3 linked regions of the Homo sapiens genome follow. The protein of the gene in region 3 purifies or fractionates together with the protein of the main gene of each other region. This does not show direct contact. Each region holds a gene or a part of one and is shown on either strand. Other genes may lie near its edges.

Evidence for each region.
Region 1: the proteins of BMP15 (region 3) and DCAF6 purify together in Homo sapiens (affinity purification with mass spectrometry; 3 studies listed by BioGRID and IntAct, with this or other methods). This does not show direct contact.
Region 2: the proteins of BMP15 (region 3) and HECTD1 purify together in Homo sapiens (affinity purification with mass spectrometry; 3 studies listed by BioGRID and IntAct, with this or other methods). This does not show direct contact.

Annotation. Positions count from the first base shown.
Region 1 is NC_000001.11:168,072,681-168,076,434, forward strand, and holds the end of DCAF6 (DDB1- and CUL4-associated factor 6), read left to right. Parts: intron 1-2,690; coding exon 2,691-2,755; 3' UTR 2,756-3,156; downstream 3,157-3,754. UniProt on the Homo sapiens protein: Ligand-dependent coactivator of nuclear receptors. Enhance transcriptional activity of the nuclear receptors NR3C1 and AR. May function as a substrate receptor for CUL4-DDB1 E3 ubiquitin-protein ligase complex.
Region 2 is NC_000014.9:31,103,173-31,106,926, forward strand, and holds part of HECTD1 (E3 ubiquitin-protein ligase HECTD1), read right to left. Parts: coding exon 3,474-3,754; intron 2,497-3,473; coding exon 2,418-2,496; intron 2,305-2,417; coding exon 2,211-2,304; intron 1-2,210. UniProt on the Homo sapiens protein: E3 ubiquitin-protein ligase which accepts ubiquitin from an E2 ubiquitin-conjugating enzyme in the form of a thioester and then directly transfers the ubiquitin to targeted substrates.
Region 3 is NC_000023.11:50,909,144-50,912,897, reverse strand, and holds the start of BMP15 (bone morphogenetic protein 15 preproprotein), read right to left. Parts: upstream 2,164-3,754; 5' UTR 2,115-2,163; coding exon 1,787-2,114; intron 1-1,786. UniProt on the Homo sapiens protein: May be involved in follicular development. Oocyte-specific growth/differentiation factor that stimulates folliculogenesis and granulosa cell (GC) growth.

The sequences.
Region 1 (3,754 bases), on a different chromosome or scaffold from region 3:
TCTAGCTAACAATGAATTTGTATTATTTCTTTTAAAGAAAGTAAATAAATTCTTTGTAAAGGGTAGCCTGGAAAATAAAACAACAGTGTTTTTTGTGAAACACAGGCTTCCATTGGGAAATTTTTTTCTTATCTACCTTCCCTCCCTCTGCAGCAAACTCAGTGTCTCTTCATATCATTATCTTCCCCAGTTTCCTGAAGAAATATTCTAACAGAATAAAAGGAACCTTTCTACAAATGTAAACCTTATTTACAAAAGCAATTTGACATTGCTACTTCTGAAAAACAGTATACATAGACATCCTGGCTAACATGGTGAAACCCCATCTCTACTAAAAACAAAAAAATCAGCCGGGTGTGGTGGCACGCTCCTGTAGTCCCAGCTACTCGGGAGGGCGAGACAGGAGAATCGCTTGAACCCGGGAGGCGGAGGTTGCAGTGAGCCAAGATCGCGCCACTGCACTCCAGCCTGGGCGATAGAGCGAGACTCGGTCTCAAAAAAAAAAGAAGAAAAAGAAAAACAGTATACATAGAAGTGATTCTTATTTCCAGTTTTTATTTAAGAGAACACACTGTTCTTCAGACCTCCTTGTCTATAATTGCCAACCAGAGATTTGTATAAGTGTTAACTGCTTTGCAGCCTTACTACTTCAGTAGCATTTCATGAACAGAAGATTTAATTAATTCTGAGAAGTTGGGCTTACATTCTGGAAGAGGTGACTATGCATCAGTTAAATGAATTGAATTTGAGGAGAGAACAACTATTCTGCTTTCCTCATTTCAGAAGCCACTGTCACTTATTCTGTGACCTATCGTAAGACTCTTGGCCCTCATTTGTCTCTTTATTGTGTGCCTCTGAGTGTAAAAGTCTAACCTCTACTGCAAACTCCCTGATTTAAAGGCTGTGACATTTTTTTCTTAACTCTCTATTATCCCATCTTCTTTATAATGTGACAACCAAAAGAAATTTGAGTAAGAAGCCTGCCAACTTTGAGATAGGCCGTTACTGCTTCATCATGCTCTAACATGACAGGATAGGTTTCTTGAATATATTCAGTCATACTCAGGATTCCCATTCCTGAGCCCTACTTAAGTAGAATAGCAACTTCATGTTTTGTTCTCTCTTGAAAGTATCACACAATAAAAACAATGTAATTTTTTTTATACTAATATCCCTTAGGTAGCCTTTTATTGGTCAGAAATTCTTCTACTGTGTTTAAATTCCTTACTGATCTATAAAGGTCTATTCAAATCTTATTTTGTTCATTTATTTTATAAATATGTATTGAATACATATTTATAAAATAAATGAACAAAATAAGATTTGAATAGACCTTTATAGATCAGTAAGGAATTGAATACTTATTTGTATTCAATACCTATTTGTATAATTAAGGTTATAAAGGTTACACATACATTATGTCATTGGTTTGACATTGGATTAGAGTTGGCATAGAGGAGATTTAATCTAATTCACTTGGACAATTAAACAATTAAAAGGGACATATAGTCCCTTCAGTGTACTGTTCTTGGTGCTGTTGACCTAGGATCCAGTGGGAGCATTTAATCCTGTGTAGATAATAAATAAAATCTCAGGATTCAGTCTTCTCTTGCTGTTGACAGTGGGACTGAACTGTTTTCCTTATGCTTAACCTTAATATTTTCCATGTTACTATGTGGAAATGTTTCTGGGGCAGAAACATCCTAGTTCCATCTCAGTGATGGTAGTGATTTTATGCTGTTGCCTTCTTCACAATACCCTTATGTAATGTATCTTACCTTCATAAAACTTATATTCATTTATTCAGTAAACCTTCATTGAACATCCTATACTAGGCTCTGAGGATATAAAGATAAAAAGAAGTAACTCCTGCCCTCCAGGAACTCTCAATCTGGTCTGCAGGAAGACATGCAAACGACTATTACTGTAATTAGGATCATCATTATGAAGTTCATATAAGATATTCTAGAATGTGGAGGAGGGAGTTCATAATTCTGCAGATAGCCTGTTTGGAAATGTCCAGGAAAAGTTTCACCAAGGGTATAATAGTTGTATTGAGATGAGTAAACCTTTATAGCTAAAGAATTGGGCAAAAGTATCCCAAGCAGAGGAATAGCAAGTGTAATTCCTGAAAACTTGAACGAGCATACTGTACTCACCAGTTTGTAAGTTTATATTCACTTGAGTATTTAACCTAAATAAGCTCCTTGAGACCAGAAATTTACATCTGTTTTGGTCACCATTGTATTCTCAGGTTTTATCACAATGCCTGGAACATAGTATTTAATTTAAAAAAATCTTTTTACAAACAGAATTACACAAATCCTCAACAATCGTCCACATATTTTCTCTCACACAGCTGCCTCCTCACTCCCCTTTGCAGCACCTGATGTACCTCCTTAGAAACCTAGACTCCAAAGAACACTGTTTGACAACCACTGCAGTAGAACATAATATATCAAGATTTTAGGAGTGGGTTTCTTTTTTCATTTTTACATGTTTTAGAATAACATGCATAATCAAAGCTAATAATACTGTGTTTTCTTTACTCTTTTATTTGCCTCTAAAGACATCCACACATAGTGGTGAACTGATTTTTAATGCGTTTTAAATAAAAGGCATTGAAAAATATTAATAATTGTAATTACTAAAAGTATTTCTCTTTGCGATTCTCTTATCTGTGTTTCCAGACCGGTTGGAGGGTGACAGATCAGAAGGCTCTGGTCAAGAGAATGAAAATGAGGATGAGGAATAATAAACTCTTTTTGGCAAGCACTTAAATGTTCTGAAATTTGTATAAGACATTTATTATATTTTTTTCTTTACAGAGCTTTAGTGCAATTTTAAGGTTATGGTTTTTGGAGTTTTTCCCTTTTTTTGGGATAACCTAACATTGGTTTGGAATGATTGTGTGCATGAATTTGGGAGATTGTATAAAACAAAACTAGCAGAATGTTTTTAAAACTTTTTGCCGTGTATGAGGAGTGCTAGAAAATGCAAAGTGCAATATTTTCCCTAACCTTCAAATGTGGGAGCTTGGATCAATGTTGAAGAATAATTTTCATCATAGTGAAAATGTTGGTTCAAATAAATTTCTACACTTGCCATTTGCATGTTTGTTGCTTTCTAATTAAAGAAACTGGTTGTTTTAAGATACCCTGAATTTGACTTTTTATTTAATGCCTTGCTACTTTGACCCACAGTTTTCCAATCTCTCCTGTAGCATACGATGACTATTTTTCTATATTTTCTAGATTTAACAACCTTTTCCTTTTTTGCTTGTGTGGGATAGAATCACATAGAAGGACTTCCTTCATTTCTCCTTCCACGGTACAGCTGACCCTTGAGCAACCCAGGGGTTAGTGGCACCAGCCCCCCTCACAGTTGAAGATTCATGTGTAACTGTTGACTTCCCAAAAATTTGACCATTAACAGCCTGTTGATCGCAAGCCTTACTGATAGCATGGTCAATTAACACATATTTTGTATATTTTATGTGTTATATTCTATACTCTTACAATAAAGTAAGCTACAGAAAAAGTGTTATTAAGAAAATCATAAGGAAGAGAAAATATATTTACTGTTCACTAGGTGGAAATGGATCATCATAAAGGTCTTCACTGTTGAGAAGGCCGAGGAAGAAGGAGGCGTTGGTCTTGCTGTCTGAGGGATGGCAGAGGAAATCCACATATAGGTGGATCTATGTAGTTCAAACCTGTGTTGTTCAAGGGCCAACTATACTTTATTTTTACCT
Region 2 (3,754 bases), on a different chromosome or scaffold from region 3:
CAATCTAAGTATCTATCAAGGGATGAATGTGTAAAGAAAATGTGGTATATGTACACAATGGAATACTATGCAACCATAAAAAAGAATGGGCTGGGCACGGTGGCTCACGCCTGTAATCCCAGCACTTTGGGAGGCCGAGGCAGGCAGATCATGAGGTCAGGAGATTGAGACCATCCTGGCTAACACAGTGAAACCCCGTCTCTACTAAATATACAAAAAATTAGCCGGGCGTGGTGGCGGCTGCCTGTAGTCCCAGCTACTCGGGAGGCTGAGGCAGGAGAATGGCGTGAATCCAGGAGGCGGAGCTTGCAGTGAGCCGAGATGGCACCACTGCACTCCAGCCTGGGACTCCAGCCTGAGACTCCGTCTCAAAAAAAAAAAAGAATGAAATCTTTTCATTTGTAGGAACATGGGTGGAACTGGAGGTCATTATATTAAGTGAAAAAAGCCAAGCACAGAAAGACAAGTATCACATGTTCCCACTCATATGTGGGAACTTAAAAAGTTGATCTTGGCCGGACAAGGTGGCTCACACCTGTAATCTCAGCACTTTGGGAGGCCGAGGTGGGCAGATCACCTGAGGGTGGGAGTTCGAGACCAGCCTGACCAACATGGGGAAACCCCATCTCCATTAAAAATACAAAATTAGCCGGGTGTGGTGGTGCATGCCTATAATCCCAGCTACTCGGGAGGCTGAAGCAGGAAAATCGCCTGAACCCAGGAGGTGGAGGTTGCAGTGAGCCGAGTTCGTGCCATCACACTCCAGCCTGGGAAACAAGAGCAAAAACTCCGTCTCAAAAAAACAAAAACAACAAAGTTGATCTCATAAAGGTAAAGAAAAGAATGGTATCAGAGGCTGGGAATGTTGCATGTGGGGGTGGATGAAGAGAGGTAGTTTAATGGGTACAAACTTACAATTAAATAAAAGGAGTAAGTTCTAATGTTTTCTAGCATAGTAGGGTGACTATAGTTAACAATAATATATATTTCAAAGAAGCTAGAAGAGAATAATTTGAATGTTCCCAACACATAGAAATGATAAATGTCCAAGATGATGGATGTCCTAAAGACTGATTTTATCATTACACATTCTGTGTATCAAAATGCCCCATAAACATGTACATATATTATGCAACAATAAAAAAATACCCATTACCGATGAAATGGACAGAAGATGAATATTCAACATTCATAAATGTTTGAATAAACAAGCATAAATTAAGACAGCTTGAAATTAAAACTGTATTTTAAATTAGAAATCCCTGCTTAACATCACAAACGTGAACAGAGAGAGAACATTCAGTTGCTATGGTCAGTATGCAAATTCTTATTACTACTCAGTCTGGAGTTCACCAGCTCTTTCTGTCATACAAGTCAGGCAAAACTGTGTTCTCATTTTCAAAAGTAATTTACCTTGTAATATACTTTGTTCCCATCATGATTCTTTCATGTTAATTCATCCTGATCAAGTAATCTAGAATGTATGCAACCTATGTCCACTTTCTTTCTTTCTTTGTTGAGGCAAGGTCTCCCTCTGTTGCCCAGGCTGGAGTGCAGTGGCACAAACATGGCTCACTGCAGCCTCAGCCTCCCAGGCTCAAACTATTCTCCCACTTCAGCCTTGCAGGTAGCTGGGACCACAGGCACGTGCCACCACATCTAGCTAATTTTTTAAAAAATGTTTTGTAGAGATGGGGTCTTGCCATGTTGCCCAGGCTGGTCTTGGAACTCCTGGGCTCAAGCGATCCTCCTGCTTCAGCCTCCCAAAGTGCTGAGATTACAAGTGTGAGCCACCACCACACCCGCACACCCGACCACCATCAATTCTTTTTTTTTTTTTTTTTTTTGTGCAGCGGAGTTTTGCTCATCGCCCAGGCTGGAGTGCAATGGTGTGATCTCGGCTCACCGCAACCTCACCTCCCGGGTTCAAGCAATTCCCCTGCCTCAGTCTCCCCAGTAGCTGGGATTACAGGTATGCGCCACCATGCCCAGCTAATTTTGCATTTTTAGTAGAGACAGGGTTTCTCTATGTTGGTCAGGCTGGTCTCGAACTCCCAACCTCAGGTGATCCTCCCGCCTCAGCCTCCCAAAGTGCTGGGATTACAGGTGTGAGCCACCGTGCCCAGCCGACCACCAGCAATTCTTGACCATAATTTCAACTGTCTCAAAGTGAAAGGAGAGCAATTATGCTAAAAATCCTTTAAAATTACCTCTAAAGGCTTCCATTTGTTTCTGAATACCCGTATGCATACAAAAGTCAAACATCAAATCCACATATTCTTCTGCATTATCCATTGTTATCATCTGCAAAAGAAAATTTGTCAGTATCTAGGAATATTTCAGGAGTGTCTAGTACAACTGGCCTTGCTAAGAGGATATGTCAGAACTTACAACTATATTAAAAGCAAACTTTTTACCTCATCTTCACCACTTGGCTTGAGATCCACAGCTGTAAAACCATATATTCTTGAGGAAGGGCAAAACTGGAAATTTAAACTGGGAGGACAAAAAAGATTAAATTAACTGACATGCAGCTACTACTAATGGTGTTTAATTTTTATAACATTACTATCATCTGCCATCAGTGGGTACAAGAGAAAAAATTAAATAAAATAACATGGCTATCAAAACCATAAATCCCACCCCTCTCCTCCTCCAACAAAATCAGTACACCAGCTTAGAAGTAAGTTGAGGACTTTTTAAATGCAATATTCTATGGACAAAATCTACTAGGCCAACTGTTATCAAATCTGTCTGGCTTTGCAAAGATTGCATGAAACCACCTTTCTATATTTTACTTCTAACTTATGGCACAAAATTAATGAACTAAAAATTTTGCAATGAATTATGACAGCAACATGTTTGTAAGACTTTTAGGAAGAAACTGTTGCTTTACTGAAGTCAATCACGCTGTGTACAAAAATATATATTAAAAAAAACCTTGAATATATAACCATTTATCAAACACAGTTTACCAACATTATCAGCAAACATTAAAAAAAAAAGGCCTTGCAGTTAACCTAAAATCACAGCTGAAGATATGATAATTACCTGTACATAAAGTAACAGAGTTTTATCAAAAGTTCTGCAGCATCTCAACTGCTACAGCCTTTGGTGATAAAGCTGACATACCAACCAATTTTTGAGCTTTGCAAAGTGAATCATATATTAGCAGATGAATTTGTCAAAATATTGTTGGCTCTGGACATTTTACACAGGCATATAAATTCACATTGGCTAAGTCAGGTAATCTTCTAAAGGTTTGATGATTAATAAACTAATATTCTAGTATTCTGAGTGTTGTCTTTATAATATTAAATCAAAGGTTCAAGTCGATCATCAATATTTCCTACAGCATATTACTGTTTTTGACAGACTATTTACTCATATATTGCAAATCAGTGACGACAAAGAAACAAAAGCTTTAAAACTTATTCATGCATTGGATTGAAGAATGTACATATAATGCTTACCCTAAATCCTCTATGCTAAGTGGAGGCCCAGAACCTGATGGATTCTTCAGCACTAGTTCCTGTAATTTTGTGTTCTTCTCATCTTCAGAAAGACCTTTGTTGCTTAAAATTTGGCGCCTCTTGATAGCAAGGTCTTTAATTTCTTTTAAAAATCTGGCTCTGTGTGGGTTTACTAATTCAAAGTCTTCCCAAGTCAAAATTCCATTAAACCAAGCTGGGGGTTTTGGTTTAGGGGGATCAAGAATAAATTCTGATTTTGAATCCTCTTCAAAGCTTCCTAC
Region 3 (3,754 bases):
TTCCCTGACAAGTCCATGGAAAGGGAAGGTTTCATTGCCATTCTCTATCTTAACAACCTACTTCATCCTTTGATAGCACTTACCACAATTCACAATTTAACTGTGTGTGCTTATTTGTCTCCCCTACGAGAACATATGTTCCATGAAAGTAGGGGTTTTACCTATCTTGATCACATCTGTATGCCTAGTACTCAGTAGGTGCCAACATTTGGCACCTAATATTTGTTCAATGAATCTCTACCCACACCATTTTCTCTTTCCTAAATCAGAATGCACTTATCTGCCTCAATGCATGACCTCTTTGCTCCTTCTGCAAGGTCAGTTTCAAGTACTACCTCCTCCATGAGGCCTTCCAACAGTCTCTTCACTTCAAGAAATGAGCCATTTCTTCTCATAGGTCCTGGGAGCCCTACTGTTTGTCCTTTCCAAAGCACTTGGCATACTGTAACATTATTATGTAATTATCTATCCATTCCACTATACTGGGAACTTCTAGAGGTCGGAAAAGTATTTGCTTCTATATACCCAACCCAAACACACTGCCTGGCACTCAATTAAAATCCAGTGGGGAGTCAGAACAGCAAGATGATTAACACACAGGCTTTGGGCCTGAGAGCCTGGGTTTGATACCTGGCTCTAGCAATTACTGGTTGTATGACATGGGTAAGTGACTCTGATCCTCAGTTTCTTCACCTATCAAGTAGGCATGTTAATACTACCTAATCTGGTAGTTGTGAGGATTAAGATAATGTTTATAAAACATTTTGTGCAATGCCTGGCACACAGTAATCTCACAGTAAGGGTTAGGTACGAGAATATTTATTGTTTTGCTTGGGGAGGGGATTAAGTCCTGTCCCTTTTCATCTCAGACTAGTGAAGGCTACAGATTGATCTCACTAGGTTCCCAAGAATTCCTTGAAGTTGATGACTGTCTGCATTCTCTAGAGAGTCCTACACTTCAATAGCCCACTGTTGTCCTGCAACAATGTCTGATGCAAATGTTAAAAGCAAAATCAAGCATGATGGGGACAAAAAAAAGTTCCAAAATACACTTAGTCCCAGAATCCCAAAGTAGCAATATGGCCCAAGTAGAAAAACTATTGGGGGTACAAGGATATTGGAATACTGCATTTAAAGACTTAAGAAGTTACCGACAGACTTTAGAATCAGACAGACTTCAGCTGCAATCCCATCTCTGCGACCCACTATCTGTGTACCATTTGCAAGTTACTTAACCTCTCCGTGCCTTAGTTTTAAAATTAGGCTAATTGCATCAAGACAGTTAAGATAGTAGCTTTCATTAAGAAATACAGTAGCACATGTTCACAGAGCCAGGTATACAGACCCTCAGATGTAAGCTTATTTATGTCCTTTCTGAGGCCTTATAAGTTTCCCCAACTCAGCAAGCTGTACTCTAAGAGCAAAACGCCACTTAAATAGCCCTCCACAAGAATATAGCTGGATATGTCTCTACAGTTTTCAGAACTATCACAAGCAATAAAAGTTTCTGTGAAAGATAGGTGATGGCACATCACTCAGTTGTCCTGGGGCCTGGGAAAGATTTCTCAGTAGGCACCAAGGCAATCTGTTCTTAAGTTGATGCCCTAAAGGGAAGTAGGCTTGGCGCTGGCTTCTCCAAAGCTTGCCATCCTTTGAAAACCAAGCCTAAAGAAACAACCTGCCCACAAGGCAACAAAGCCTGACAGTAAACCCACCAATTCCCTTTTCTCTACACTCCTCTCCACTTCTCTCCCTTCCAGGGCAGTATGGGGGCATAACAACTCACCTCTGTGAGGCCTTGCCACATTGGTCAAGGGCTTCACCAGCCTCACCATGGTGGCCCCAATGGTGCGGTTCTCTCTAGGGTGCCCATGCGAGTCAGCTGAACGCCGGTACAACTCCAGCATGTACCGCAGTGAATGCCCTAGGAGCCGGGGCTTCCTTGGCTGTTCGCCAGGGGATTCTTCTAGCAGCTCCTCAATCAGGGGCAAAGTAGGGGCCTCAGCCAGAAGGGCAATAGAGGACTGCCCTCCTTCTGCCATTTGGGCCCTGTGTTCCATGAAAAGCACGAGTTCACAAAGAAAAAGAATTCTAAGAATACTGAGGAGGACCATCTTGAAAGGCTTAGTGTTCAACAACAGGCCCCAACACAAGCCCAAGGGACGTCACTCTGACCATTTCCTTTCATGCAGATAACTGCATCCTGGCTCCACAACCAAGGATGGGGCAAGAAAAAGAAAGGCAGGCAGGCCCTATGTTGCTTTCTCTAAGAGGATCTCCTGGACCAAAGTTGCCTCATAACTTGGCCTCTTTGCATCAAAAGAAACAGAAACAGAAGGTGGGACAAGGCAGCATGCCCCTCCCGCTCTCCCGGGCTGAGAACAAGATAGTACCTATTGAGAGGCTCAGGTAACTTAAAAGGAGAGGTCCATTTCAGGACCCACTTCCTTAACTTATCCACTAGAATGAAAAAAAGCAGCCTGATCCTACTTGCCCCTACAGCCTTAAAAGTAGTCCCTTAATCCATCCTTAAAGGGCCAGAGGCCTCCTGTTCCCATCCTACTTCCATGCCTCTAATGCAGCATTTCTCAAAATATTGTCTGCTAATAATCTGCAGTGAAACTATCTGGGGTGATTATTAAGAATGTAGACTCCTGGGTCTGAACCAGGATTCTCTGGGATGGCGTCCAGAAATCTGGCTCTTTACCAGTGCTCCAAGAAGTTCCTATGAAAACCTAAAATGTGGAAACTACTGAGTATGGCTGCTGGAGCTTGAAGAAGATGCCGTAACAGTGGTTCTCAATCTTGGCTGTAGATTGGAATCATCTGGGAAGCTTTAACTATTATGAATGCCTGGGTACCATTCTGATGTAATGGGCCTGGGTTGTAACTAGTGCATCAGGATTTTTTTAAGTTCACAAGTGATTTTAATGTGCAGCCACGTTTAAGGACTCTGACTTATAATTTTCTGGTTTACCTTGGAAGGTGTTGAGATCCTTATTGGGCTTCATTAGAGAAGCCTGAGGAAGGGGAAGAGTAATCTATGGGAGCTAACCTAGCCCAGATGGTTAATGTGAAGCAGCAGGGCTCGGCCAGTTTTAAGGCTGCCTCAGACCATTATTCTGCAGAAAGATAGTAGGTATAGTCCTGGCCGTACCGAAGTAGAAACATATGGGGATCTGGAGAGAAACTGGGGAAGCAGGTCAAGACCTGGCTCTAGGAGATGATGAGTCAGGCTTGATTTGTGGGAGGCCTTTACCTTACACCAGGAGTATCTATGGACAGACATTACTGTGGAACAGGCGTGGACTTGGTAATCAGGCAGATCTGTGTTTGAGTTGCAATTCTGTCCCTAGCTGTAATTTAACCTTTCCAAGGCAAATTTCTAGCTGTAATTTAACCCTTCCAAGACAAATTTCTTCACTTCCCTACACCTTAGTTTTCTCATCTGTAGAATGGAGATAACACGTTTTACCTCACAGGTTGTTGTGAGGAAGCAAGGAAATAATCTATGTTAATTGCACAAAGCCTAATTAGACACAAGACATAGGGTTACATGTTCAAATTTATTTGTGCTCTTCCTCTGTTTTTTTTTCTAACATGACCTTGGGCCCTGGCATGTAGTGTAAAACAAAAGGCATAGGTTTACGGGTCCTCTACATCTGGACTCAAATTTCAGCTCAAAAACTCATTAGCTGGGTTACTTTAAGCAACATTTCTCCCAGACTTAGTTTCTTCATCTATACTGCTGGCT